4 linked regions of the Homo sapiens genome follow. The protein of the gene in region 3 purifies or fractionates together with the protein of the main gene of each other region. This does not show direct contact. Each region holds a gene or a part of one and is shown on either strand. Other genes may lie near its edges.

Region 1 (7,026 bases), on a different chromosome or scaffold from region 3:
TCAAGACCTGGTTACCTGCATAATTTCTCAAAAATTATTCTAGGTTTTAACATTTTAATAGCACATTTTACGTGCTCTACTATACAATTTATAATATGTTGAAGGAGCTATATAAAATGTATGTATGTATATATATTTCTACTTAGATCTATTTTTAAGGAACCTGAGCACATGTTTTACTATTTCAAGTAATTAACAGTGTATGTTTTTTTGTGATGCAGTGTCAGTCACATATATTGATGCTCTTTTAGCTGCTGTGTCTTTTTTCAGGAATGAATCTTCAATTAAAGCACTAAGCACAGAAGTAAATGTAACAAAAGTAGCAAAGCCAGAAAGCATGGAAAACACAAGAAAATGAGACATATGAGAGAACACAGTGGAGATTATAAGAAAACACAAATAAACAGGGCAATTCAAGAGGAACCAAATATGAAAGTTAATATCATGGTCCATCTTGCCCAGTACAAACAGCCCTCAACTTTAAAATGTTATCCAATCATTTTGAAATCTACATAGTGAACTCCTACTATGAACCCAATACTATTCCGAGAACAGAAGACGCAGAGGTGAAGCAGACAGCTAGCCCTAGAAAAGCTTGACAATGCTGAGGCAGGCACATAAAAGAACTACAACAATCTAACAGTTGTTACAATACAGGTGTGTACCAAGAGCTTGGAAACCAACAAAGCACTACCCACTGGGAAGCAGAGAGGACAGCAAGAAAAGACCTAACAGATGAGATCCTGTACTAGGTTTGTCTGTCTTCTCTGGCTTAATCTTGAGATTCTCCATAAAAAAAAGCGGGGTGGCTGGGAGGGGGAGGCTGGGAGAAGGCCATTTCAGGCAAAAGCATGGAGCAATGAAAAAAAGCACAAAACATCAGGGATCATCAAGGAGTTCAAGAGTGGCTAAAGCTCCCAACTGGTATACAGGAATCAACGTAAAAGAAGAGGATAAAAAGGAAGGTGATAAAGGGCCCTGCATACAATGTGAAAAAGTTTGGTCTTTAGCTTAGCTTAGGTTCTAAATAGTAGTTTACAAAATCCTAGAAGTTCTGGAAGGTATTCTAGGAATTCATGTTGCCTTCTATTAATAAACAAGCAAGGAAGCAAATAAAATATTTTTTCTTTTAAAAAAGAACAAATTGATTATTTGTATATCAAATGAGAGGTACAGCTTAGAAGAAATGAAATGATTGTACACAAGATTCAGGTCACTTACATGATTAAACACCAAGTACTCAATATGGTTTTGATTGTTTCACAGTTTAAAATTGTTTTCTTCCTTAGGTTTAATGTCCACCAAAGTTGAACTACTGGTCAAAATTAGAAAGTATAAAAACCATGGATTTTGGAGGGAAAAAAAAGGAAAAGGAAAATATTGATAAATTCTCCTCAAAATGATCTTCACCAAATTCTTAATATACATTAATCTAAGACAAGTTCTTTTACAGCAACTTCAAAAACCATAGGTGATGGAAGGCAAAAAGTGTATTTTGCTTGGCATTTATTGGCAATTCGCACCTACAATGTGCTATATGCCGAGAAGCAATTGCAAAAACTAGCCTGAAAAATTCTCTTACCGTATTTAAAAACTACTGCAAAAATTTAAAAACAATCAAATTTGATGTTTCAAGTGAAATATTAAAGAATTCCAAGCTAGTTTTGCCTGTTTTGATGCTATACGATGTGAACATATTTAAATGTATTTTAATGTAGATTTGGAATTAAAAACTCAACAGGTCATTTAAAATCCCAGCACTTGGGGAGGCTGAGAAGGATCGCTTGAGCCTAGGAGTTTGAGACCAGCCTGGGCAATATAGTAAGACACCATGTCTACAAAAAGTTTTTTAAAAAATTAGCTGAGTGAGTGGTGGCACAAGCCTGTATATCCCAGCTATTGAGGAGGCTGAGGTGGGAGGATCACTTAAGCCTGGGAGGCAGAGTTGCAGTGAGCCAAGATTGCACCACTGCACTCCAGCCTGCCTACAAGGTAGAGCACAGTGGCTCACGCCTGTAATCCCAACACTTTGGGAGAACAAGATGGGAGGATCCCCTGAGCCCAGTTCAAGTCCAGTCTGGGAAACATGGCGAGACCCCGTTTCAACAAAAAATTAAAAAATTAGCCAGGTATGGTGGTGCATGCCTATAGTCCCAGCTATTCAGGAGGCTGAAGTGAGATTACGTGAGCCCGGGAGGTCGAGGCTATAGTGAGCCGAGATTGTGCCACTGTAATCCAGACTGGGCAACAGAGCAAGACCCTTTCTTAAAATAAATAAATAATAAATAAAATTTTTAAAAAAATAGTGACCATTTTTAAAAAAGATAATAGAAAGTTACTGAAGGACTGCAAAAGAGGGTAATACTATCATATGTGTTTGTGAAAATCACTCTCTTAACTAAGAATAGATTGGTGGGAACCAAACTTGAGATAAGGAGGAAAGACAACATAAGCCTTCCCAGGCAGAGGACAACAGGGCCTTAACATGGGCAGGGGTACCAGTACTTGTAAGACTGAAGGGAGCAATCAAGATGCTTAGGAGTAGTCTACCCCAAGTTCAACTTTCTTCTGCTCCTCCTTTTACAGCTTCTACTGTTTCTTAGTTTCTGAACTCCCAAAGTTCCGTTATTTTTCCCCACGATGGTTTCTATGAGAGTAGCATTAAGCACCACTGCACACAGCAGGAGTGGAAAAGGAAGTGCTACTTACAGGTAGTTTAGTGGTGAAGATCTGCCCATATCTTATGTATGGCTTACCTCTCCATTAGATTGTGAGTTATCTGGGAACACTGTTCATACCCCCACTACTCCAATAACACCTGACGCATAGGAAGTAATCAGTAAATACTGAATGAATGACACTAAGGGATGAAATGAGCACAGATATTGATGCTGCCCTTTATTTTAATCTCAAAAGTGAGATAAGTGACCACCACTCTACCCCACTGAAAACTTCCCATTTTCCCTTAACCTATCAAATCTAGCTTTATTTTATTTTATTTTATTTCATTTTACTTTATTTCTTTAGGCTAGTCAAGTGAAGCAGTGAGAGTGGAGAAGGAACACAGAAATTTGTAACTGGTTGTGATCAATTAGTTGTAAACACAAATCAAGCTTTTTTTAAGGTCAATTTCAAACAATATCAACACTTACAGTGTTAACAGGAAGAGATCACTTCTAATATGGATAAAGGAAGGTAGCATGGAAGAAATAATTTAGACTGGGAGAAGAGAAAGCAGATTCCAGGCAGAAAAACAGTGTGAACAAAAAGCTAAGATGAAATGTTCCAAGGGTAATCACAGCACTGGCTGGAATGTGGGACACATAAAGAGGAGTAGGGAAGAGCATGGAAAACTGGGCCGTGTCTAGAGAGCTAAAGATTTTAAACACCAAGCTATGTAAATAGTTTGCCTCTTAAGGTCATTTTAAACAGGAAGATTCAAGAAGGCACTTAATCGAATTATCAGGCAGCAATTATGTAAGACGGGTAGAAGACAGTATGCATTTGTGTGTATGTACCCCTTAATTATCTTCCCTTTAGCATTTACAGTTTCAAGATTTTATAACATAACTTCTCCAGCAGGCCTCAGCAAGGCTGAGGCACAAGAATCACTTGAATCTGGGAGGCATTTATAAAATCATTTATAATACAAACAATATAGTATGTCAAATTTAAAATAATGCACCTAAGACTGCTTATATGCTTTTCATTAAAAACACATTTAGAATCTTTGAAACATCACGAAGCAGTTTTAGTATCTCTAATACAAGTCTAAACATAAGTTCAGATTTGAAAGTCATCTCTGAGACTGTGATCCAATCAAAAGTTGTATCTGAACAAGTTGTATCTGAAAAAGGTCATTCTAGACTTGGTCAACTAGGGGAGAAGCTCCAGCTATCTCACAACTGCTGTAAACAACCTTGCCAACTGATACAAAGAAAACAGAACTCTCAAAAAATGCTAAAGGCCCTAGCTTCCCAAATCATCTGCTCTCGTGACTCCGGTAGACTTTAAAAAAAAGTCAAGACAAATTTTATGACTAATAAACAAATAGACGGGACTTTGGTAACACATGGTAATTATATTTACTCATAACATTGGAAAAAGAAAATGGAGAAGTTTCTTTCTAGTCTTACCTGCTAGGGTTTTTAAGGAATCTAGTGTTGGAAGAATAGGGGGTGATCTTCTCTGGAGAAAAAAGATGACCATCATTGTAAGGGAGAAATTTGTAATCCATGCACCAGGAATACTACTTGTTAGTGAATGTGCTCGAGCCCAGCACCGTACACTGAACACCAAGGCTCTCACTCTTGAGTCTAGGGCACCATATATATAAAGGAGTTCGGAACTTGTCAAGGCAATCCTTCAAAAAATAAAAATAAGAAAAATGTTCAAATCCCCAAATTATAAACCAAGGGTAAAATTAAACTCAAACCAAGAAACACATCTAAATATCCTACTATATCTGAATGTATTCAGAACATCATTAGGTAATCAAAAGCATTATGAATTTGCAATATAAAATTTAATATGAATGGCTGAATATCAAATACATTCATTCCCATTAAAACATCCTCTTAAAATTGATAATTAAAATGTAAGCCGGGCTCGGTGGCTCATGCCTGTAATCCTAGCACTCTGGGAGGCCGAGGTGGGCGGATCACTTGAGGCCAGGAGTTCAAGGACAACGAGGTGAAACCCCTTCTCTACTAAAAATACAATAATTCAGCTGGGCGTGGTGGCGTGCCCCCGTAATCCCAGCTACTCAGGAGGCTGAGGCATGAGAATTGCTTGAACCCGGGAGGCAGAGGTTGCAGTGAGCTGAGACCATACCAGTGTACTCCAGTCTGGGAGACAGAGCAAGACTCCGTTTCAAAAAAAAAAAAAAAAAAAAAAGAAAGAAAATGTAGATCTAGGACCAGGCGTAGTGGCTCATGCCTGTAATCCCAGCCCTTTGGAAGGCTGAGGCGGGCGGATCACCTGAGGTCAGGATTTGAGACCAGCCTGGCCAACATGGTGAAACCCTGTCTTAAACAAAAATACAAAAATTAGCTGGGCGTGGTGGCGCATGCCTGTAATTCTAGCTACTTGGGGGGCTGAGGCAGGAGAGTCACTTGAACCCGGGAGGCGGAGGCTGCAGTCAGCCGAGAAAGCGTTATTGCACTCCAGCCTGGGTGTCAGAGCAAGACCCTGCCTCAAAAAAAAAAAAAAAAAAAAAAGAAATAAAGAAAATGTAGATCTAGAACTCAGAATATGTATGTATTTATTTATTTGAGACGGAGTCTCGCTCTGTCGCCCAGGCTAGAGCGCAATGGCGCGATCTTGGCTCACTGCAAGCTCCGACTCCTGGGTTCACGCCATTCTCCTGCCTCAGCCTCCCAAGTAGCTGGGACTACAGGCGCCCACCACCACGCCCGGCTAATTTTTTTGTATTTTTAGTAGAAATGGGGTTTCACCGTGTTAGCCAGGATGGTCTCAATCTCCTGACCTCGTGATCCACTCGCCTCGGCCTCCCAAAATGCTGGGATTACAGGCGTGAGCCACTGTGCCCAGCCTAGAACTTAGAATTTTTAAATCAAAGTTTCTAAACATGATTTAAATAATATGTAAAACACACAAAGGCGCTTTATAATTATTAATAAATGGCTGGGTACAGTAGCTCACACCTGTGATCTCAGAACTTTGGGAAGCTGAGGTGGGCAGATAGCTTGAGCCGAGGAGTTCAAGACCAGCCTGGGAAACATGACAAGACACTGTCTCTACAAAAAATACAAAAGTTAGCTGGGTGTGGTGTCGCACACCTGTAGGCCCAGCTACTTGGGTGGCTGACGTGGGAGGATCACCTGAGCCCAGGGAGGTAGAGGCTGCAGTGTGCCAAAATTAAGCCACTGGGCTTCAGTCTTGGCGACAGAGTAAGGCATCATCTCAAACACACACACATATATATATATAAAATCGATAAAGACAAAAAGGCATTTATTGGCTGGGCACTGTGGCTCACGCCTGTAGTCCCAGCATTTCAAAGCAGGAGGATGACTTGAGCCCAGGAGTTTGAGACCACCCTAGGTAACATAGTAAGACCCTGTCTTTATAAAAATAAAAAATGTATATATAAAAGAAAAACAAAATTTTAAAAATTTAATTAAAAAAATAGTCAGGCGTGGTGGCATGCACCTGTAATCCTAGCTACTCAGGAGGTTGAGAAAGGAGGATTGTTTGGGCCCAAGAGTTCGAGGCTACAGTGAGCTATGATCACACTACTGCACTTCAGCCTGGGCAACAGAGAGAGACACTGTCTCTAAAAAAGTAAAAATAGAATTAAATTAAATTAAAAATATTAAGCTCCTACTGATCAAAACGTGTCTTGTAATTTCTCCAAGAACCAACAGATGGCATAAAAAAATAATTTAACAGCATCAAGTTAAAACTGTCTCTAAAACTGTCTTTAAAAAGAATAGAAGAAACAAGGCCAGGCGTGGCGGCTCACACCTGTAATCCAGCACTTGGGAGGCCGAGGTGGGCAGATCACCTGAGGTCCGGAGTTCAAGACCAGCCTGGCCAACATGATGAAACCCTGTCTCTACAAAAATTAGCCAGCATGATCACATGTGCCTGTCCCAGCTCGGAAGGCTGAGGCAGGAGAATTGATTGAAGCCAGGAGGCGGAGGTTGCATTGCAGTGAGCCAAGATTGCGGCACTGCACTCTAGCCTACGCGACAGAGCAAGACTATGTCTCAAAAAAAAAAAAAGAAAAAGAAAAAGAAGAAACAGCAACTTAGAAATTCATTGTGATTAAGTGTTTTATGTATGAAAATGAAGCTAAATTAAGCTAAAAATAAATATCAAAAAGTATAAGGTATCTTGATATAAAGAAAAAAACATAATTACAAAGATAAATGTAATTTTGTCCTATTTTACATACTACAAAGAAAATATAATAATGATAGAAAGTACAGTATTATATTTTTATACTAAAATTTGTCAAGAAATCACAGACTTTACTCCATGAGTTTTACTTGAGAGAAA
Region 2 (7,026 bases), on a different chromosome or scaffold from region 3:
GAGCGTATCAGAATACAACCTTGATTTTTCCCATTTAGACTATTCTAAATAACACTGACTCACAGTAATGTCAAAATCAAGTTGTGTACATATGGATAACTCATTGTTGATAAAGACACAAAGGCAATGTAGTGGATAAAGGATAGCCTTTTCGATATATCCAGGTGCTGAACAACTGGATATCCACATGCAAAAAAATGAACTTGAATCCATACCTTACACCATATACACATATTAACTCAAAATGGATCTTAGACCTAAATGTAAACCTAAAATTCTATCTGATCAAAGACTTGTATTCAAAATGTTTAAAGAAGTCTCAAAATTTAACAGTAAGAACACAAACTAATAAAAAATAGGCAATTATTCGAACAGACATATCATCAAACAAGATACATGGATAGCTAATAAGAACATGAAAATATGGGAAATAAAAATTAAAACCACAATGAGATACTGCCACATGCCTATTAGAGTAGCTAAAATTAAGGCCAGGTATGGTGGCTCATGCCTATAATCCCAGTGCTTTGGGAGGCCGAAGAAGGCAGATCACTTGAGCCCAGGGGTTCAAGACAAGCCTGGGGAACACAGTAAAACCAACAAAAACTATAAAAATTAGCTAGGTGTGGTGGTGCATGCCAGTAGTCTCAACTACTAGGGAGTGTGAAGTGTGAGGATCACTTGGTTCCAGGAGGCAGGGGTTGCAATGAGCCAAGTGAGCCAAGATCACAGTACTGTACCCAGCCTGGGCAACAGAATGAAACCCTATCTCCAGGAAAAAAGAATGGCTAAAATTAAAAGGACTGACCATACCAAGGGTTCACAAGGATGTGAAGAAACTGGAACTCTCATAACTGCTGATGGGAATATAAAATGGTATGACCACTTCATGAAACAGTTTAGAAATTTCTTAAAAAGTTGGCCAGGCACGGTGGCTCACGCCTGTAATCCTAACACTTTGTGAGGCACAGATGGGTGGATCACTTGACGTCAGGAGCTACAGAGCAGCCTGACCAACGTGGTGAAACCCCATCTCTACTAAAAATACAAAAATTAGCCAGGTGTGGTGGCACATTCCTGTAATCCTAGCTACTTGGGAGGCTGAGGCAGGAGAATCACTTGAACCCGAGAGGCAGAGGTTGCAGTGAGCTGAGATTGCGCCACTGCACTCCAGCCTGGGCAAGAGTGACTCCGTCTCAAAAAAAAAAAAAAAAAAAAAAGTTAAAACATACACACCTACAAAGCAATCTGGTCATTCTGCTCCTAGTATTCACCCAAGAGAAATGAAAACATACATCCATACAAAGATGTAGACACAAATGTTCACAGTATCTGTCTTTGTAATAGCCCAGAACTAGCAATAACCCAAATATACATAAACAGCCAATAACCAATTTGTGGTATATCCATGCACAATTACTCAGAAATAAAAAGAAACAAACTATTAATACATGCAACAACATAGAGGAATCTCAAAATAATTGTCATAAGTGAAAGAAGCCAGACAAAATAAGTATACATCCTGTATGAATCCATTTATATAAACTATAGAAAATGCAAACTAATCTATAGTAACAAAAATCAGACAGGTGGTTGGTTGGGGAGGTGAGTCATGTAGGGGTGGGAAAGAGGGATAACAAAAGTCCATGAGAAAACTTTTTGGGAAAGTGAGCATGTTTAAAAAGTTTTGGATAAAGTGAATATGGGGTTGGTGTGTATGTTCACTGTCTTGATTCTGGTGAAAGTTTCATGGAGGTACATATGTCAAAATGTATCAAAGTGTACCATTTAGGCTGGGCGTGGTCGCTCACGCCTATAATCCCAGGACTCTGGGAGGCCGAGGCAGGTGAGTAACTTGAGGTCAGGAGTTCGAGACCAGCCTGGCCAACATGGTAAAATCCTGTCCCTACTAAAAATACAAAAAATTAGCTGGGTGTGGTGGCAGGCGCCTGTCATCCCAATTACTTGGGAGGCTGAGGCAGGATAATTGCTCGAACCCAGGAGGTGAAGGTTGCAGTGGGCCAAGGTCACACCACTGCACTCCAGCCTGGGCAACAGAGTGAGATTCTGTCTCAAAAAAAAAAAAAAAAAAAGTACCATTTAAATATATGCAATTTGTTATGTCAAGTAAACGTCAATAAAGCTGTTTTTAAAAGGTTGTATATAAATATTATACACCAGAATTCCTATAATTAGCTGAAAATTAATCCCATTCATTCCTAACAACAAATATTTATCTAGCACCTACCATATGCCAGGCACCCTGCTAGAGTTCTAGGGATACAATGGTAAGCAAATTGACAATATTCCTAACCTCATGAAGTAGTCTGCCAAGGAAGCAGAGATTAATAAAAGATTTAGACAGACACATATAATACAAACTGTAACAAGTGCTATAAAGGAAAGGTACACAAGGAGAAGACAGACTATAATAGGAAAATCAAATCTACTCTGACAGAAAAATCAGTGATGGATACCCCAAGGAAGTCACATGTAAACTGAGGAAGAAAAGGATAATAAATTGAAGATGGAACTTTGCTCAGAAGAGACACTAATAGAAGCAAAGGCTCTGAGGAAGGAGAAAGCATAAATCTTTGAAGGAAAGGGAAGAAATCCAAAAGGCCAAAATCAAAACAATGTAGACAACACTATTGGTCACCTATTTAATAACTGTTCCACTTCTCTTTCCTCATTCCTACCAGAAGTTCAATCATCTACCCTCCTCTATATAGTCACATGCTTTAGAGGAAGCTGACTCCATCCTTGATTTTAGGAAATGGATACTCTTTGTTTTGACTTAAGTCAATCATGGCAACCTCTGTCTCCCTGCCAGTGACTGGTAAAGGAATAGCATGAGTAAAAGCAGAAAAAAGCGTTATTGGATGCTCTAAACAAGAAATGGTAGTTTGGACTATGGAGGTACCAATGGATATGGAGATGTACATGAAGAAATAAGAAAGAGCAAAGTGTCCAGGATGTTCCCTAGGTTTCTTAGGTAAATAATAGTCTATCCTTTCTATACAGCCAAAAGCAGGTGAAATATTTTTTAAATATATTATTAATAATCTTATGTTACTCTTAATGTATTTCTCTAAAATTAGTAAAAATTATTTAAAGATCACACATAAACATACCTGATACTTATGTAGGATACTGGCCTCAGAAGGCCAGGCAAACTTATCAAGAATGAATCAATGAGGCTAATTAGATTTCGTCTTAGGATACAAACATTGTTTTATAGAATTCTAACATATAATTAACAATAATGGCTACAAATAACATCAATTTTGGAAAATCATTTATTTTGCCTTGCCTTCCTTAAAAAATTATTTAGGACAACAAAATGTCTCAATAAATTAAAAGTCAAACCAAGAATTTAAAAACGTCTATGGATTTTTGACCACTCTGTGCTATTTTAAAATCATTCCAGAGAAACTAGATAGAGATATATAATCAGTTATGCTAACCAAACTTATATAAATTAGGGCTTATAACAGTAATAATTAAGACTCTTATTACAGATATCAACTGACCCAGGCAAAATATAAATTACCTTGACAAGTTGATGAAGTGCCATTTCTTTCAGAAGGTGGTGTGCTTGGATAGTTGAAATGACGTGAAGTTCCTTGGTTCATGTCATTGTTTGTAAAATCCTTTGAATGGCATGCACAACAACATGACAATTGTACTTCAGCTTTTTCACTTACGCCCTCATCTGCTGGTTTCCCTAAAAATGAAAGAACATCTATTTATAATATATCTAATTAAATAAACATCAATCATTCTCTACAGCCCAGTTCACCCAGGATTGGGAGGTTTCCTAAGATAAAAGATTTTTAGGGCTAACACCAGGAAGGTACCTGGCAAACCTGGACAAGCTGGTCACTTTATCTGCAGCATCAAATTAGGACAGGAGAGAAATAAGCCAAAAACATTTGGTTGGACACAGTGGCTCACGCCTGTTATCCTAGCACTTTGGGAGGCCGAGGCAGGCACATCAATTGAAGTCAGGAGTTTGAGACCAGCCTGGCCAATATGGTAAAACCCTGTCTCTACTAAAAATACAAAAATTAGCCAGGCGTGGTAGTGCACGCCTGTAATACCACCTACTCAGGAGGCTGAGGCAGGAGAATCGCTTGAACCTGGGAGGCAGAGGTAGCAATGAGCAGAGGTCATGCCACTGCACTCCAGCCTAGGCGACAGAGCAAGACTCTGTTTCAAAAACCAAAACAAAAACATTTATAGGGAAATTATCACCCATTTATGTAATCTGTAAAAATCTAATAATCTAAGATTAATAATGTAATAAAAGTACAACTACTCAAGTATTCATTTATATTAAGATTTATCTAAAATTCAAGAATGGATTGAAACAAGGACATAAAGTATATCCTTAATTACTACTCTTTCCCTAAATGAAGAATTTGAAAGTTCAATATATTAGATAATAATCTAACACATAAGGGTTAAATCATTCCCCCAATTATACTTCTATTTCAAATAGAAACATGTTTTTTGATGTATTAATTCTGATACTTGCATCAAAATACATTTTAAGGTCAATATTCAAATCAATAAAATAGGTAATTTTAGTGCTAAATATAATACCAAATTGTAATAAGTTTACATTGTGTGCCTACATTGTATACAAATGTACAATTCATATACCCCCAAAAAAGCTAAATAATTTATTTTTAAAAATAATCAGTATTGACATTGTTTTCCCATTTGTACCATATAAATATTCCTAATTCTATTTTCCAGACATCTGCCATTAAGACCTGAAGTTAGTACCGATAAACTCATTTTTCCCAAAATTAACGTCAGTGAGAATCAAAATGAACAACCAAAAGCTTATGAAGTATTTACTGTTTTTTTTTTTTTTTGAGACAGAGTTTCGCTCCTGTTGCCCAGGCTGAAGTGCAATGGCGCGATCTCGGCTCACTGCAACCTCCACCTCCCAGGTTCAAGTGATTCTCCTGTCTCAGCCTCTCGAGTAGCTGGGATTACAGGCACACGCCACCTCACCAGGCTAATTTTGTATTTTTAGTAGAGACGGGGTTTCTCCACGTTGGTCTGGCTGGTCTCAAACTTCCAACCTCAGGTGATCCACCTGCCTTGGCCTCCCAAAGTGCTGGGATTACAGGCGTGCGCCACTGTGCCCAGCCTTAATATACTCTTATTAGTAACAAACATTTCATTTTAAAAATGTATCTATATACCTATATACACATACATACATACATACACATACCATGTTTAACCTCAATTCTCCTAATACTTTAGGTTAAAGCCATCTAATGTAACTAAAATGTATCCAATATTATATTTCTGATTCATTATGTAGTTTATATAGTCTTTCATAGAAGTAAATATTAATAGGCATTTGTTAGCAAACAAAGTAAAAATAGTTTGGCCTGGTGGCTCATGCCTATAATCCCAACTATTTAAGAGGCTGAAGCAGGAGAATCACTTGAGCCTGGGAGTTTGAGGTTACAGTGAGCTATGATCACATCACTATGCTCCATCCCAGGTGACGCCACTCAAAAAAAAAAAAAAAAAAAGGAAAAGTAGTGGGAAGTAATATAAATTCATACAAACAATATTATACTAAATTTCTGTTTATCTGGCATTTAAACAAGTAGAAAGATCAACTAGAATGTATTCTTTTTTATATATTCCATGTGCTGATGTTATGAGAAAGGAACAGGTAAGCAAATATATTAAAGGATTTCCCCCCCCAAAAAAAGCAATTAGTATGTGTTACAGCATCATGACAGCCCATCTCTTGCATCTTTTACATACAAATTATCATCTAATTATTTTTATAATAACTCTAAGCATCCAAAACTTTGTTTGTTTGTTTTCTTTCACCCAGGCTGGAGTGCACAATCACAGCTCTCTGCAACCTCGACCTCCTGGGCTCAAGCGATCCTACCACCTCAGTCTCCCAAGTAGCTGGGACTACAAGTGTACATCACCATGCCTGGCTAATTGATTGTCAATTTTTGTAGAGATGGGGTATCACCATGCTGCCCAGGCTGCCAAGTCTTTATGTACTTTCCGACTCATCAAAAGACTAAATTATGTTCAATACTATTTTAGCATTAATTAAACATATTTTGCTATATTGAAACTCTTTTGGAAGATTTATAACTTATTTCAAAGAAACATCTTTAAACAAATATTTAAGTTAGCGACAGCATGGCTGAACCAGTCTGGATAAAGAATACTGTATTATATTTTCTCAGATCCCAGTAAGTAACCTGAAGATATCAAGCAACTACTTACCACTAAGAGATTGTTGCCATGCTAAAGCAGAACAAAGTAAGGCTAAGCTTTTTCCACTTCCTGTGGGACTCTCCAACAAACAATGTTGCTTGCTGTTTAATCCTCTGAGAATCTATGAACACAGAAACCAATGAAAATAATAAACATATTAACTTTATAAAGGTCTCTCTCCATCTGAAGTTTAAATAGAACAGCAAGGAAAAGTGAGATTGCACTCCAGGGAACACAACAATAGCAGAAGGAACTCATATTTAGTTAAATCCAAACTGTATTCCTTTACACCTCTCCCTAAGATTATCTTACTAAAATATCAAGCACAAGAGAAGAAATGAAAAGAGGAATCTGTGCCAGAATTATGCAAGCATCAATGATTTCTGTAAAACCAGAATACATTACTACCTATCAATATATTTGATGAAAACTTAATGAAGGATACTGCTAGTGAGAGTACAAATTGTTACAACTACTTGGTAGAGAAATAAACAATTTCTTATAAAGTGAAGATGCCCAGCTCCAGCAAGTCCAGTTCTATGTGTACACCCAAAACCTTTCCCACATGAACACAAGGAAACATGCATAAGAAAGTTCACAGCAGCAGCCACGCTTGTAATCCCATCACTTTGGGAGGCCAAGGCAGGTGGATCATTTGAGGTCAGGAGTTCGAGACCAGCCTGGCCAACACGGTGAAAACCCGTCTCTACTAAAAATCCAAAAATTAGCTGGGCGTGGTGGCGC
Region 3 (7,026 bases):
AAAAATTAGCTGGGCGCGGTGGTGGGCACCTGCAGTCCCAGCTACTTGGGAGGCTGAGGCGGGAGAATGGCGTGAACCCAGGAGGCGGAGATGGCAGGGAGCCGAGATAGCGCCACTGCAGTCCGGCCTGGGCGAAAGAGCGAGACTCCATCTCAAGAAAAAAAAAAAAAACCATAAGACACCACGACACACACACAAAACTAAAATTTAAAGACAAACAATATCATGTTTTGGATAGGAAATTAGGCGATTGGAACACTCCTACAATTTAATGAATTAAATTAGTACAATCATTTGGAAAAATGTTTGGCATTCCCTAGAAACTCCACAATTCTGTCTACTCAGAGAAAAATCTACGTATATAAATAGGTATGTATGCATATACACGTGTGTGCAAAACAATACATGTACAAGAATACAAAACTGTTCACAGCAGCATCATTTTTAACAGCCAAATCGAAGTCCAACAGCATTAAAATCAATATATAAATTATGGCATAGTCATTTTGTGGAATACTATACATCAATGAAAATGAACTATGGCTATACTCAAAATGTATATGAATCTCTCAACACACTGCTGAAAGGAAAGAAATAATATACACAGAAACAAAAGCATACTGTATAACTTATTTATTTTCATTCAAAAACAAGCATAAATAACCCATGGTATTGTAAGTCAGGAAAGTTTTAGTGTGTAGTGACAGGGAATAGGACATGATGGAAAAGGGTACAGATGGAGAGGCCTACGACCATTCCAGTTTTTACCTATGTGGCGATCACACAGTGCATTCACTGTGATAATGAGTCCAGTTGTATGCTTATAATTTGTGTAGTTTTCAGCATGTTTTACTTCTCTAAAAATGTTTATAGTAAAAAAAATTAACATCTTACTATTCAATTCTTGTGTTCGTTGTAGTTTAGAAAGAATAAGAAACAATGGTTTTGCTGTGTTGTTGATGTTATTTGGAAAACTGTTTTTAACGTTTACAGGGAGAAATAAATTTTCAGCTGCTAAAACTAAATTCTGAAATCATTTGGTCCTCTTGAAGGAAGGTCAACACCGGCATCATGTAGCACTAGAGTCTGTGTGTCACTACTCAGCACCAATCACCCGGAAATCACATTTTCTTCCTACCTGTGTTTCTGTCTGTTGATCCTAACTTCTTTAATTACACTAAACGTGTCTGTAACTTCTCCATCTGTAAAGACAAAAAGCTATACAAAGAAAGAAAATGTTCATCAGGTCTTTGTCAAGTTCTTTTTAAGAAACCAGAATTTGCCCTTGAAAAATCCACCTATTTCATTGCAGAGGCTCTGGTGCCTCTTCAAAGAGGCATGAAATCCCTAATGTTTCAGTCGCTGGCACCACATTCTCACATGATCTGTTCAGAACCCTGGGAATTTTTAGCACCTCCCCTCCTAGCTGCATCTCAGTTATTGTGGCACTCCATAAAAGGCCTTCCAGTGTCCATCGCATGGAGTTAAGGAAGAAGACAAATGCATCATCTTTTTTTTTTCTGTTTACTATATGATAGAAGACTGTGAATTGCAAACTATATTTCAACATACTGCATGAAGCTCAGGGGCATAGATTCTTAGAGATTTCACACTTCCTGTCTCTTCTGTTAGCTCTGTTCCACTTCTTACCTGTAGGGGGTGGCCTGGGATGGAGGGTCCCCTGTAAATGTTCTGGAGTGGTGCCAAGATTTCAGTGCCCCCTAGGTCGGCCTGCATAAGCTTCACTCTCCCCAGAGCCTCCTCCATTGTTTGCTGAGTGTACTTCACACTCTCCCTGAGAAAAACAAACACACCCAGTTACATGAGGGTTACTTAACCTTGCCCAGTATAGAGTCCCTGAATTGAGAAACCCCCATTAAAAGAGAGTCTTATCCGAAACCCCCAATGCCAAAGTCAACTCCGCAGTAACCCCTTTAACAATTTAGTCCCTTTCTTTAAAGTCTCGTTTTGTACTCCCTATTGTCTTTCCAGAAACTTACGGAAAGCATGCCTCATAGGAAGAGCCAAATCCATAGATGTTGAAATAACAGCCTATAGGTAAACTCTTCAGCAGCAAAATCAGTGTTTCCTGAAGGTAAGAGAGTATGAAGAGACAGAGTGAGAGAGGCTCGCCAAAACACATGGGCCCTGTCAATCGACTCTTGAGGATGTGGGCCATCCCCCACCTTGTGCCTTCTTACATTCCAAGGCTAGCCTCAGGGTGGTCGTGCTGCTCTCTCAGGCTCCAGATAGACCCTTATTTAACCCCTCAGATTCATCCTCACTTGAGCATGTGACCCAGAAGAGGAAAGAAACTAGCTTTACCTTGGCTGCCTGTATTCGCAGCTGAGATGTATCCTGGCTACTCATGGGGCTCTGCATACTTCCCGAGCGGTCCATGAGAAAGATAAACTCTCCACAGGTATTTGATGGTTGATCTTCTGGGATATTTGGATAGAAACTCACCATTGCAGATGGATCTCCCATCAAATGACCTGTTCAGAAAGGATAAAGCCACTGTAAGACAAAAAGGAACTCAAGAATCCTAGTACCTAAGAATCAATGGTAGTGAATTCAATTAAGAGCTAGGAAAACTCAAATCTAAAACACTGTGATGATTCATGTACCATAACTGCTTGCAATGGGGTCAAGGTGAGTTATAAATATATAAGACAGACAAAAACAGAACAGATATGAAAGAGAAGAAAGAGGATAGAAGTTAGTAGACACAAGCAATAGTTAAAACATTGTCACTGATTACTAGTTTCCTGGCAGCTAGGCAAATGAATGAAATACATTAGGTTAAAATGTTCCAGCATTTGCCAAAAGAATCAGACAAGTTTATCTGCAGAATCAAACCTTTTCTTCAAATCAAATAAATGGGAAATGTATCACATGGGCCTTAAGTCTTTAATTACAGCTTTGAAAAAAGTGATACTCACATGGACAATTTTTAGGTTGACAATTTACAAGTGTTGAGAGTATAAGTATTATACCCACCAAGGTAAGTCTGTCTGCTTTGGGTGTGAATAACTCGCTGATAGTCCCCAGAAGAAAGGGAAACACTGAGACACATGTTGGATTCTATTATCATCATCCAAACAATGGTGTGGGGGTGACCACAGGAGCCCAGTCTATCTGGCCATGTTGTCAAAGCCACAGCTGTGACTATTTTTAGAAGCAAGTGAGGGCTGATACAGGAATTGAAATGCTAGTATTGAGATAGAGATGCAATGAGAATGGCTAGGTTAACTCCAGCTTTACAGAAAATATAAGAGGCTATATAATTAAATTCCTTTATCCCATTTTTAAGAAGCAGTTCCAGGATCATAGATTTATATTCTCAGTAGTCCTGGGATTTGGTATGACAATAGAATCTGGCTCAGTTTAATTTCTTCTCCATAGGATATGCCAGACACCAAACTGGCTTCTAAATAAGATGGGTGTTGCCCATCAAATATATGATAGGACACTAGTTCAAAAAATAACATTTACACAATCCAGATGTCTGGATATACGATGGAGGAGGAGCTTTTGTGATGAGCAAGATTCCTTTCCATTCTCAGAGACAGCTGGTTTAAATGGAGCTGGTGCTATATTGAGGAGTCAGAAAGGGTGGCATGAGTATGATATGGGGTAACATATTTAACCTGTTTACAACAATGCCAGATGAATTGTAAGCGTTATATGTGGATTATCTACTATAATTTTAGCCTGGCTCAAATTATTTTCACCTCCATGAGTCTCAGCTTCTTTGTTTTCAAATGAGGCATTTCAAACTTTAGCTCCTCTGCTTGCTAGCCTCATGTCTTCCTCTGAAAAGTCAAGGTAGTAACACCTACGTCAAGATTATTTTAAGCCGGGGTATCCAATCTTTTGGCTTCCCAGGGTCATATAAGAAGAAGAATTGTCTTGGGCCACACATAAAATACATTAACACTAACAATAGCTGATGAGCTAAAAAAAAAATCACAAAATAATTTCATAATGTTTTAAGAAAGTTTACAAATTTGTGTTGGTCTGCATTCAAAGCTGTCCTGGGCCACATGCAGCCCACAGACCATGAGTTGAACAAGCTTGATTGTAAGAGTTAAGTAATATAATGTACTTAAGGAACTCAGTTTAGGGCTCAACTCAGATTAAACCCATAATAACCAATATTATAAAATTATTTGTAAATTTTATTTTTATACAATTTTTAAATTAAATTATAAATTTAATTTTAGAAAAACATGTTCTTAATATCGTAAGTACATCTGTTCTAAGTCTGTAAAACAAATAACATACTGTGTTTTTGTCATATATCTGTAGGTTTCATTTGGCAGAACTCTGAATGGTTTCAGTGAGACAAGCTGCCGCTTAAAGCTGTCATTCGCTTCCTTGTGTGGATGAGAACAGCAAGTCATCTTGACTAAATATACGACCTGGGAAGCAAGACTTGAGCAGTCCTGCTGGAAGGGATTCACAAGACTGTAAAGACTGTCCCTGATGTCCCCCCTTGGCCTTCAGACCTGGTCATGGGGACTAGATGAGAAAATCTGCATAGGGGCCAGGGGAACTTCTTAGAAAAACAGGGACTGAGATCTCAATCCTTACCTTTTGAGATCCAACATTATGGAACTTTCTCTGGTGAAAACAGTCCTTTGAAATAATCTTAACTGACACGTAGGTCACTGTTATGGGAATATTTCATGGACACCCAAGGAAATAGTCACCATAAGGAAAGGAAAAAGCAGATAACTAACGTACAAAGACAGAGCATGGAGCTTCGTGGAAGAGGAGATGGTTACAGCAAATCTGGTGGAAGCTGGGAGCCCCTTGAATGACCTTAGCATGGAGAGCTTGCCCTGAGGAAGAGTGGTTGAACAAGTGAGGGAAAACTAAAAAGTTCAATTTGTGAGCTCAAGTATGAAGCTACTTTGGAAGCAAACATTAACAATGAGAGAGTAGGGTACTCTGTAGAAAAACAACTACAGGGAATTTTCTTGACAACAGCTATAATTGTAAAAACAAGAGCCTAAGCCAAGCCGTCCCACTTTGAATATGATTGTCACCAAGGACATGTCCATTCCACCATGTGTAAATGCTTCAGAAGTGGCAATAGCACTCCAGTCCTGTGTCACCGAAACTCAGAAGCATGGCAGCCCAGGAAGGCCCCAAGAACACAGCAAACTGACATGGGTTACACCAATTTAAATTCCAAGAAAGAGTGCATGTACATTAAGGAAAATTTCAAAAGTAATAAACATTAAAAGAAACTAAGAAACTAAAGTTATTAAGAAGCTAAACTTAGTCTTAGAAATTAAGAAGCTAGGGCAAAACAAAAAAGTTTTGGAGATGAAGGGTGGTGATGGTTGTACAAGGTGAATGTCCTGAAGACCACAGAACTGTACACTTAAAAACAGTTAAAATGGTCAATTTTGTTACATATATTATATCTCGAAAAGAGAAAAAAACTTCAGTTGAGACTGCATGTAGCTGTGATGAATCAATCAATAGAAATTATGTATTAGATAAAAAAGAAATTAAGAACTTTCTTAATTAAGAATTAAACTTAGTCAATCTAATCACAATGACTACTTGCATTCTTCCTGTGTTTTAAAATGTTTTTCCTAAAGCACAGAGTATTTTATAGTGGTAATCTGTCTATAACTTACTTTTCTTTTACGTAACATTCTTTGGAGGTCATTTGTCCAATTACTTCAATCTGTCAATATACACTATTTTAGTAGCTGCATATTAACTCATGAAGTATACCTAGCATAGCAAATTTAGCCAATAAGAGACATTTTGATTGCTTACTAATACTCGATATTATTAAAATGGTGGGGGACATCTCAGTGCATATTTTTACTTATATATGGATTTACTTCCTTAGGCAAGATTTCTAAAAGTGAAATTACCAAAGTTAACATTGATTTAACACATATGGCCAAATTTATCCTCGAAAGGTTAGTTCACTTTTTAGCACACTCACAACCTTAAGAAAACCTTTTAAAGCATGAGGCATCAGATTTGGAAATCGTTGATAATTTGAAAGGTGAAAATGTCACATGATTATTTGGATGTCTGTCAAGACTGATCATTGCCACATGTTTATAAACTGGCCATGTTTTCTCTTGTAAATTATCTGTTCCTGGCTTTTGCCCAATTATCTACTGATCTACTTAAATTTGCCTACAAGACATATCACATGACAGTCATTAAACCTAACCATTTTTGCATGACATAGTGTAAACTATTTCAGTGTTTCACATGTATTAACCACCCCTGGAGGGAAGGAAAGAAAAGAGAGTAATTCGACAGTAATTCCAAGACAGGGAGTTGCCCCTTAGGGGATGACTACAAAGGAAGAAAGAAAATACCTGGCTTCATGTTAGGCATCCCCATCTCCAAAACCACGCTGGGGGTATGCACCTCATTGTAGTAAATCAGGAGTTCCACGTCCCGATCAAACTTGTGTCCAGCAGCCAGGGAAACCTGAGTGGAGGACAGGTAAAGGAGCCACATTAGAATCATAACTTCTTGCTTCTTGGGGCTGAGGTTAGGGCGCAGTCCTCCTCCATAAGACAGCATGACTAGGAACAGAGGTGAGGCTGGAGAGAAGGCTCTGGAGATTAAATGACGATATGCAAGGAGCATGTGGGACCCCCTCTGGGTTACCACTTGGGAAGAACTGGTTGGGGACCAAGTCAAGACTCAAGCAACAGAGGTACTGACAATAGCAGTATTCTCTCATTAACTACCTGAGCAGAAGTCTTGTCCTCTCCTAGGTACTCGGTAGGACTCAAGGGGCAGTTGGATTGGACCTTCTCAATGCCATGCTGGGAATCTATGGTGGCGACCATGCTGAGTGTGTAGGGCAGGTCCTCCACAGGGACTATAGGAGTCTTCACATTAAGGCAACTGTCCTTAGACGACCCTATAAAAGATGACCTTAGTTCTGTTTTCCTTGCCAACACTTTTTATGACACTCTCAACCTTAAGAAAATTTCCCCATTTATGTCACCCACCACTAGAATTCAA
Region 4 (7,026 bases), on a different chromosome or scaffold from region 3:
GGGACCTGCTGCCGGACGCCTGCCTCCGGCTCCCCTCCAGTGCCTGTGGAGCAGGAGAAGGAAGCCGGGCAACCGCAGGCAGCGGCAGCGGGATGGGCACCTCTGGGACCTATCTGTGCCGGCAGCCTGCCTGTTCCTCACAGAGGGTCTCCACTCCCGCCGGCAGGCTTGGGAGGCGGCAGTGCCTCTGGGAAGACCACTGTGGCCAGAATGATCATCGAGGCCCTGGATGTGCCCTGGGTGGTCTTGCTGTCCATGGACTCCTTCTACAAGGTGGGCCCCCGCCCAGCTCCCCCGAGGACCCCTTTGTCCTCTCCCTGACCCTGGACCCCCTGCAAAAGTAGGTCCCTGGTCTCAGCCCCAGCGTGGCTGCTCCTGGGAGGCCTAGAGCCCCTGTCCGCTGGCATTGGGTGAGGGCCCTACTGTGCCCACAGCTGCTCCACAGCCTCCCCCACCAGGTGCTGACTGAGCAGCAGCAGGAACAGGCCGCACACAACAACTTCAACTTCGACCACCCAGATGCCTTTGACTTCGACCTCATCATTTCCACCCTCAAGAAGCTGAAGCAGGGGAAGAGTGTCAAGGTGCCCATTTATGACTTCACCACGCACAGCCGGAAGAAGGACTGGGTAGGCCAGGGCCCTGCAGAGGGGGCCTCGGGGGGCTGCAGGCACATGAGCCAGGCTCCGCAACTCCTGGGTTTCTTCACAGAAAACACTGTATGGTGCAAACGTCATCATCTTTGAGGGCATCATGGCCTTTGCTGACAAGACACTGTTGGAGGTAAGCACCCGCCGGGAATACCCACCCCGCTGGTATCTCAGCCCTGGCCGCCCTGTCCATGAGGTGTGCGTCCTCCTGCCCTGTCCCCAAGGCCTCCACACTGTATAGGCCTAGGCCAGCCACTCCCTACCCCAACCCCAACCCCAGGCATGCCACAGCTGGGTCCATCTGCCGGCCCCAAAAGGCAGAGCGTGGCTGCCTGAGGCAGTGGTTCCTCTCCACCGGCTGAGGCCTGTGCGCATACCTGGAGTGTCCTTGGCGTTCTCGTCCCTTGCCGTGGTCCTGACGGACAGGTGAGGACCCAGGGCTGGTGTGTTTGAGAGATTTTGCTGTAGCTCAAGGGGGCCTTCAGGACACAGCTGAGTGTGACTCAGGTTGGCCTGATCCCAGGGCCCAGGTCCTGCCCCTTGTACAGGCCCAGAGGACTCCATCATCCGGCACATAGCAGCCCCCAGCCTCCACAAGGCCTCTTCACGGGCCAACTACTGTGTGCTGAGCATGGGGACAGACCCTAAACTCGCCACGTCCCCCATTCCCCAGTGTGTTGGTGCAAGTTACCCCAAGCAAAGTAAGGAGATCACATGTGCCCAGCCCCATTCCTGCCTGATTCCTTAGCCAGCCACCATGCCATGCCTCTTCACCTAAGCCCCTGACGGGCAGCACCGCATCCCCAGACACCCCCACCTCCCCACTCCTTCCCACCTGCCAGGGTGCCCTGGGGAAGTGGCTCGGGCCAGGCCCACGGACCAGGTGCAGACACCCCCACCTCCCCACTCCTCCCCACCTGCCAGGGTGCCCTGGGGAAGTGGCTCTGGCCAGGCCCACGGACCAGGCGGCCTCAGTGCAGGGGCTGGTCCCAGTGTCTCCATGCCCACTGCTGGCATCTGGCCACTCACTGGCCCGCTGTCTCCACCAGCTCCTGGACATGAAGATCTTTGTGGACACAGACTCCGACATCCGCCTGGTACGGCGGCTGCGCCGGGACATCAGTGAGCGCGGCCGGGACATCGAGGGTGTCATCAAGCAGTACAACAAGTTTGTCAAGCCCTCCTTCGACCAGTACATCCAGCCCACCATGCGCCTGGCAGACATCGTGGTCCCCAGAGGTGAGCCTGCTGGGCTGCCTGTTGGGTGGGTGTCGGGCAGGCCAACGGCCCAGCCCCCGGTCACCCGCCCCCCCATCCCGCCCCAGGGAGCGGCAACACGGTGGCCATCGACCTGATTGTGCAGCACGTGCACAGCCAGCTGGAGGAGGTGAGCGGGGTCCCACGTCCCCACGGCCTAGCCCCCAGCCCCTCTACCCACTTCTCCGCTGCCACCACCCCCAGTGGCCTGGTCACCTCATCCCCCTGCGTTCACTGTCCCCTGCCAGGTGCCAGCCCTGAGTGTCCTGAGCCTGCTTGGCCAGTCAGATTGTCCAGCCCAGACCCCATCCCGTTGTGCTGTGCAGGGCCTGGGTTCCCTGAGGAAGCTGGGGTGGGGGTACAGGTGCTCAGGACCCAGCCGAGGGTGCAGCCCGCTCAGCACACCCAGCCTGAGCTTTTGGGAAGACAGGCATGACCTGCTGGCCCAGGATTGTGGGGTTTCACTGCTGAGTCCCACGCCAGGCCAGGCTCCTCTCTTTCTCAGGGGGTCACCCCAGGAGCGACACCCCCACCAGAGGTCCCCTGCTCCCTGAGGCATTCTATGGCTGGGCCTTGGAGCCTGAGTGGCTCTGAACACACTCCCTACCAGGATGTTGAAGGCCTGAGGCCTGCAGAACAGAGCCCAGGGTCCTGGCTCTGATTGCCCCAACGCAGAACTGCAGGTCTGGCCCAGGTGGTCCCCAGGTTACAGGCATTAGAAGCTTGCCACCCCCCATGGCTGGCTGTGTCCCCGCGGGCCTGCAGCATGTCCATTCCTGGGTGGGGGTGGCCTGGCCGCCTGCCCTGGTCACTGACGCGCCACCGTTCCCTTGTGTCTTCCTGTGTTGCTGCCACAGCGTGAACTCAGCGTCAGGTAAGACTTGCACAGCTGTCTGCACAGATGGAGGCACTTCCAACACCTCCAAGGAGCTCTGGGGTCTGGGCTGTGATCCAGCCAGGCAGCTGGCTCTTCCCCAGTCACAGAAGGGGTGGTGTGGAGTGGTCCCAGCCCTGCTTCTGCCTCCCCTTGCTGGCAGATGAGGACACTGAGGCACAGAGACGTGAAGTAGCTTGCCCAGCGTCACGGAGTCCTGACCCTGTCCTGGCCAGACTTTGCTGGAGGCTCCCCTGACTCCTGAGTCTGTCTATGGGATTTGACCCCAGAGAGCACAGCTGTCCTCCTGAGCCAGCACTGCCAGGCCTCTGGGGCAGTGACTACAGACATGTCCCAGCAGCCAGGGAGCCTGCTGTACCTCCTGTGCCCAGCCTCACGGACCAGTCAGCTTTCCCTGGTTGCAGGTGGAGGGCCTCGCGCCTGTCCTCCCACCCACCCGGGTCCTGCTTGCCCCAGCTCTGTCCTCGCAGCCCGCACAGCTCTGCCAGCAGGAACTGGGCAACTGCAGCAAGAAGCTTGGGCTGGGCCGGGGCCGCATCCCACTGTCCCTCCCCAAGGGCAGGCATGCAGGGGGGTCAGCCACAAGGGACCTGCCCTTCTCCCTGCCTTCTGTGGGTTGGGAGGCTCCTGACTGAGCCACCTGGAGGGAGAGCCCTCACATTCAGAGCCCTCCAAAGAGTTTGCCAAATGTTGGAAATGCCTCCAGGGCCCGTCCACCAGCCGTCCAGCTTCCGGTGCCTGCATGAGTCTCCGCTTGGCCCTCTCCTCGGCCTAGGAACCCGCAGGTCTTGTCCCGTCAGGTTCCTCCTGAAGCTTTTGTTCTGAGAGGAAAAACTTTCCAGGGTTTCAAACTTGGAAAAACACCTGAACGCAGCCAGACACATTTTCCGTCGTCTGGTCAGCCAAGGAAGTGTTGGCCTGTGGCTGCACTCACTTCCTTCAGCCCCAGGAAGCCTTGGTCGGGGGCAGGAGGGAGGGTCAGGCAGGGCTGGGGGCCTGACCGCCCACACTCCTCCTCAGGCCTGCGGGGAACGCCCTGCTCCCCAACTAAGCAGCCTTCTCTTTGTTCTCTTCCTTCTCTCTGTAAACCCCCGTTTCCTGCCTTGTTCCCTCCCTGAACATGCTCTTCACCTGGCAAGCAGAGGAAGCTACGTTGGGATATGTGAGCAGTGTGCTCCGTGGTGCTGCTGTGTGACCCGCCTTCCCGTAGCCCCTTGCCCCGCTGCTCCCGCTAGGCCCTCTTTCCTGCTCCTGCCCCGCCCCTTTCCCTGCCGCTGTCACGCCTCTTTTCTGCCCTGCCACACCCCATTTCCGGCCCCGCCCCTTTCCCTGCCGCTGTCACGCCTCTTTTCTGCCCTGCCACACCCCATTCCCGGCCCCGCCCCTTTCCCTGCCGCTGTCACGCCTCTTTTCTGCCCTGCCACACCCCATTCCCGGCCCCGCCCCTTTCCCTGCCGCTGTCACGCCTCTTTTCTGCCCTGCCACACCCCATTCCCGGCCCCGCCCCTTTCCCTGCCGCTGTCACGCCTCTTTTCTGCCCTGCCACACCCCATTCCCGGCCCCGCCCCTTTCCCTGCCGCTGTCACGCCTCTTTTCTGCCCTGCCACACCCCATTCCCGGCCCCGCCCCTTTCCCTGCCGCTGTCACGCCTCTTTTCTGCCCTGCCACACCCAATTCCGTGCCCTGCCTCTTTCCTTCCCCTGCCACACCCAATTCTGTGGCCTGTCGCTTTCCTCTTCCTGCCCCTGCATCACCCCCTTTCCTGCCCCGCCCCATTCCCTGCCCCTGTCATGCCCCTTTCCGGCTTTGCCTCCTCCCTGTCCCACCTCTTTCTTGCCTCCACCCCGCCCTTTTCCTGCCCGCTCCTAGACCTGCTGCTGCCCCGGCCATCCCCAGGCTTGGGCAGCGGGGCGGGACGGGACAGCCAAGAGACACTGAGCCAGCTTTGCCCCCCACCCCCCTCTCTTGAGGGGCCGCGCACCACCTCGGGGAGGAGCCAGGGCGGGGCCTGACCCCACAAAGCTTTAGTTCCCCCGGGGAGAGGCTGGGGACAAGCTACCCATTCTGGGGTATGACACCTATCAGCACGTGTGAGCCCGCCCTGTGCCCGGCCCACTTCTGCTTCCTCTTAGCGCAGGAGGGGTCCCGCACTGGGAGGGGCCCTCACAGCCTACCCCGCTAGCTTTCTGCCTGATGGTGAGCTTGCCCCGTTGTTCGCCGCCATCTTTCGCCTTTGCCTGACAGCTCAGGTAGGGCGACGTCTCCCCCCAGCTCAGCCCCAGGCAGAAGTCAGGCCCGCTCTGCACCTCGTGCTGTGCCTGGCCCGTGTGTTCCCCTCACAGTGACGCACAGCCGTCCTGTGGGGAGGGAGGGCTCTGGGAAAAGACCCCCTTCTTGAGTGTTCCCCATCGGTTTGTCCCCAGGGCTGCGCTGGCCTCGGCACACCAGTGCCACCCGCTGCCCCGGACGCTGAGCGTCCTGAAGAGCACGCCGCAGGTACGGGGCATGCACACCATCATCAGGTGAGGGCCCACCTGGGGACGGGGCGGCCCCGGGCGCGTGCTCCCGCTCAACTGTTGGCCCCACAGGGACAAGGAGACCAGTCGCGACGAGTTCATCTTCTACTCCAAGAGACTGATGCGGCTGCTCATCGAGCACGCGCTCTCCTTCCTGCCCTTTCAGGTTCGTAGCCCGTAGCCCGCGAGGTGGAGGGTGGGTCTTGGAGCCGGTGCGAGCTCCCTGCGCTCACCGGAGTCCTCACCCTGCACCCCACAGGACTGCGTCGTACAGACCCCGCAGGGGCAGGACTATGCGGGCAAGTGCTATGCGGGGAAGCAGGTACCTGCCTGGGCACACCTGGGCGCGGGACAGGCTGCTGGGGCGGGATGTGGGCGCTTAGCCTCCCCTCCCCGCAGATCACCGGTGTGTCCATTCTGCGCGCCGGTGAAACCATGGAGCCCGCGCTGCGCGCTGTGTGCAAAGACGTGCGCATCGGCACCATCCTCATCCAGACCAACCAGCTTACCGGGGAGCCCGAGGTGCCTGGGGGCAGCCGGGGTGATGAGCCCGGGGGTAGGGGGCAGAGGGAGCTCACAGCAAGGGGACGCAGGGAGCCCCACCTGCAGCCTGACCCCTGCTGCCCGCAGCTCCACTACCTGAGGCTGCCCAAGGACATCAGCGATGACCACGTGATCCTCATGGACTGCACCGTGTCCACGGGCGCGGCGGCCATGATGGCAGTGCGCGTGCTCCTGGTGAGTGAGCCCTGGGTAGGCGGGGCAGGTTCAGGCAGAGGTGGGATTTACCTGCCCAATACACTCGGTAGGACCACGACGTGCCTGAGGACAAGATCTTTTTGCTGTCGCTGCTCATGGCAGAGATGGGCGTGCACTCAGTGGCCTATGCATTTCCGCGAGTGAGAATCATCACCACGGCGGTGGACAAGCGGGTCAATGACCTTTTCCGCATCATCCCAGGCATTGGTGAGGCTGCCCGGGCCCTTCAGCCGCACATGAGGGCAGGGTGGGTGGCCCTGGGAGGCCCCACCACACTGGACCCCCCCCCCCCTTTTTCCAGGGAACTTTGGCGACCGCTACTTTGGGACAGACGCGGTCCCCGATGGCAGTGACGAGGAGGAAGTGGCCTACACGGGTTAGCTGCCCAGTGAGCCATCCCGTCCCCACCACCCTCCTCCTGCCTCCTGACCCAGGACTGCTGAATACAAAGATGTTAATTTTTAAAATGTTACTAGTATAATTTATTCTATGCATTTTATAAAATAAATAAAGCTTTAGAAAAATGAAGGTGTGATTGGTTACAGCACAGGAGAGGTGTCCTGGCTGAGGCATGCATTTGTGGAGACTCCCATGGGGAGGGAGGGAGGGAGCTGAGGGCCCTGCCTTCTCCCCTGCAGGACCAAGCATTCCCAGTCTTGCACTTGTGCCAGATGAAGGAAGGGGTAGAACTGGGCCCTGCAGCTCCTAGCTCTGCTAGATGGGGCCCCTAGAACCCATAGCTTGGTGGCCACCTGGCCTGGACCTAGGGAGGGGACAGGGCCCCCTGGTGCTCTGGGTCTCACAAGAGGCAGGCTGTTTTGCCCCCACCCACAAATTTGTACCATCAGGGTCCTCCCCACAGTTGGGGGGGGGGAGGGTCCTTCCCGTCAGGACAAGTCGCTGGAGGCAGCAAAGCCAGGAGGCAGACCAGGGCGGAAGTGGGGGCCTG

Evidence for each region.
Region 1: the proteins of VWA5A (region 3) and MTPAP purify together in Homo sapiens (affinity purification with mass spectrometry; 2 studies listed by BioGRID and IntAct, with this or other methods). This does not show direct contact.
Region 2: the proteins of VWA5A (region 3) and BRIP1 purify together in Homo sapiens (affinity purification with mass spectrometry; 2 studies listed by BioGRID and IntAct, with this or other methods). This does not show direct contact.
Region 4: the proteins of VWA5A (region 3) and UCKL1 purify together in Homo sapiens (affinity purification with mass spectrometry; 2 studies listed by BioGRID and IntAct, with this or other methods). This does not show direct contact.

The regions. Positions count from the first base shown.
Region 1 is NC_000010.11:30,318,255-30,325,280, forward strand, and holds part of MTPAP (poly(A) RNA polymerase, mitochondrial precursor), read right to left. Parts: intron 4,364-7,026; coding exon 4,137-4,363; intron 1-4,136. UniProt on the Homo sapiens protein: Polymerase that creates the 3' poly(A) tail of mitochondrial transcripts. Can use all four nucleotides, but has higher activity with ATP and UTP (in vitro). Plays a role in replication-dependent histone mRNA degradation.
Region 2 is NC_000017.11:61,853,505-61,860,530, forward strand, and holds part of BRIP1 (Fanconi anemia group J protein), read right to left. Parts: intron 6,404-7,026; coding exon 6,292-6,403; intron 3,728-6,291; coding exon 3,554-3,727; intron 1-3,553. UniProt on the Homo sapiens protein: DNA-dependent ATPase and 5'-3' DNA helicase required for the maintenance of chromosomal stability. Acts late in the Fanconi anemia pathway, after FANCD2 ubiquitination.
Region 3 is NC_000011.10:124,118,429-124,125,454, reverse strand, and holds part of VWA5A (von Willebrand factor A domain-containing protein 5A), read right to left. Parts: intron 6,923-7,026; coding exon 6,747-6,922; intron 6,481-6,746; coding exon 6,366-6,480; intron 2,496-6,365; coding exon 2,326-2,495; intron 2,090-2,325; coding exon 2,001-2,089; intron 1,796-2,000; coding exon 1,651-1,795; intron 1,219-1,650; coding exon 1,139-1,218; coding exon of another isoform or gene 1,135-1,138; exon of another isoform or gene 619-1,134; intron 1-618. UniProt on the Homo sapiens protein: May play a role in tumorigenesis as a tumor suppressor. Altered expression of this protein and disruption of the molecular pathway it is involved in, may contribute directly to or modify tumorigenesis.
Region 4 is NC_000020.11:63,939,408-63,946,433, reverse strand, and holds the end of UCKL1 (uridine-cytidine kinase-like 1), read left to right. Parts: intron 1-166; coding exon 167-273; intron 274-434; coding exon of another isoform or gene 435-458; coding exon 459-629; intron 630-711; coding exon 712-783; intron 784-907; exon of another isoform or gene 908-1,351; intron 1,352-1,699; coding exon 1,700-1,889; intron 1,890-1,975; coding exon 1,976-2,037; intron 2,038-2,412; coding exon of another isoform or gene 2,413-2,568; exon of another isoform or gene 2,569-2,764; coding exon 2,765-2,781; exon of another isoform or gene 2,782-2,877; intron 2,878-3,707; exon of another isoform or gene 3,708-3,803; intron 3,804-3,941; coding exon of another isoform or gene 3,942-4,671; exon of another isoform or gene 4,672-5,225; coding exon 5,226-5,324; coding exon of another isoform or gene 5,325-5,390; coding exon 5,391-5,484; intron 5,485-5,577; coding exon 5,578-5,640; intron 5,641-5,717; coding exon 5,718-5,840; intron 5,841-5,948; coding exon 5,949-6,056; intron 6,057-6,127; coding exon 6,128-6,284; intron 6,285-6,378; coding exon 6,379-6,458; 3' UTR 6,459-6,605; downstream 6,606-7,026.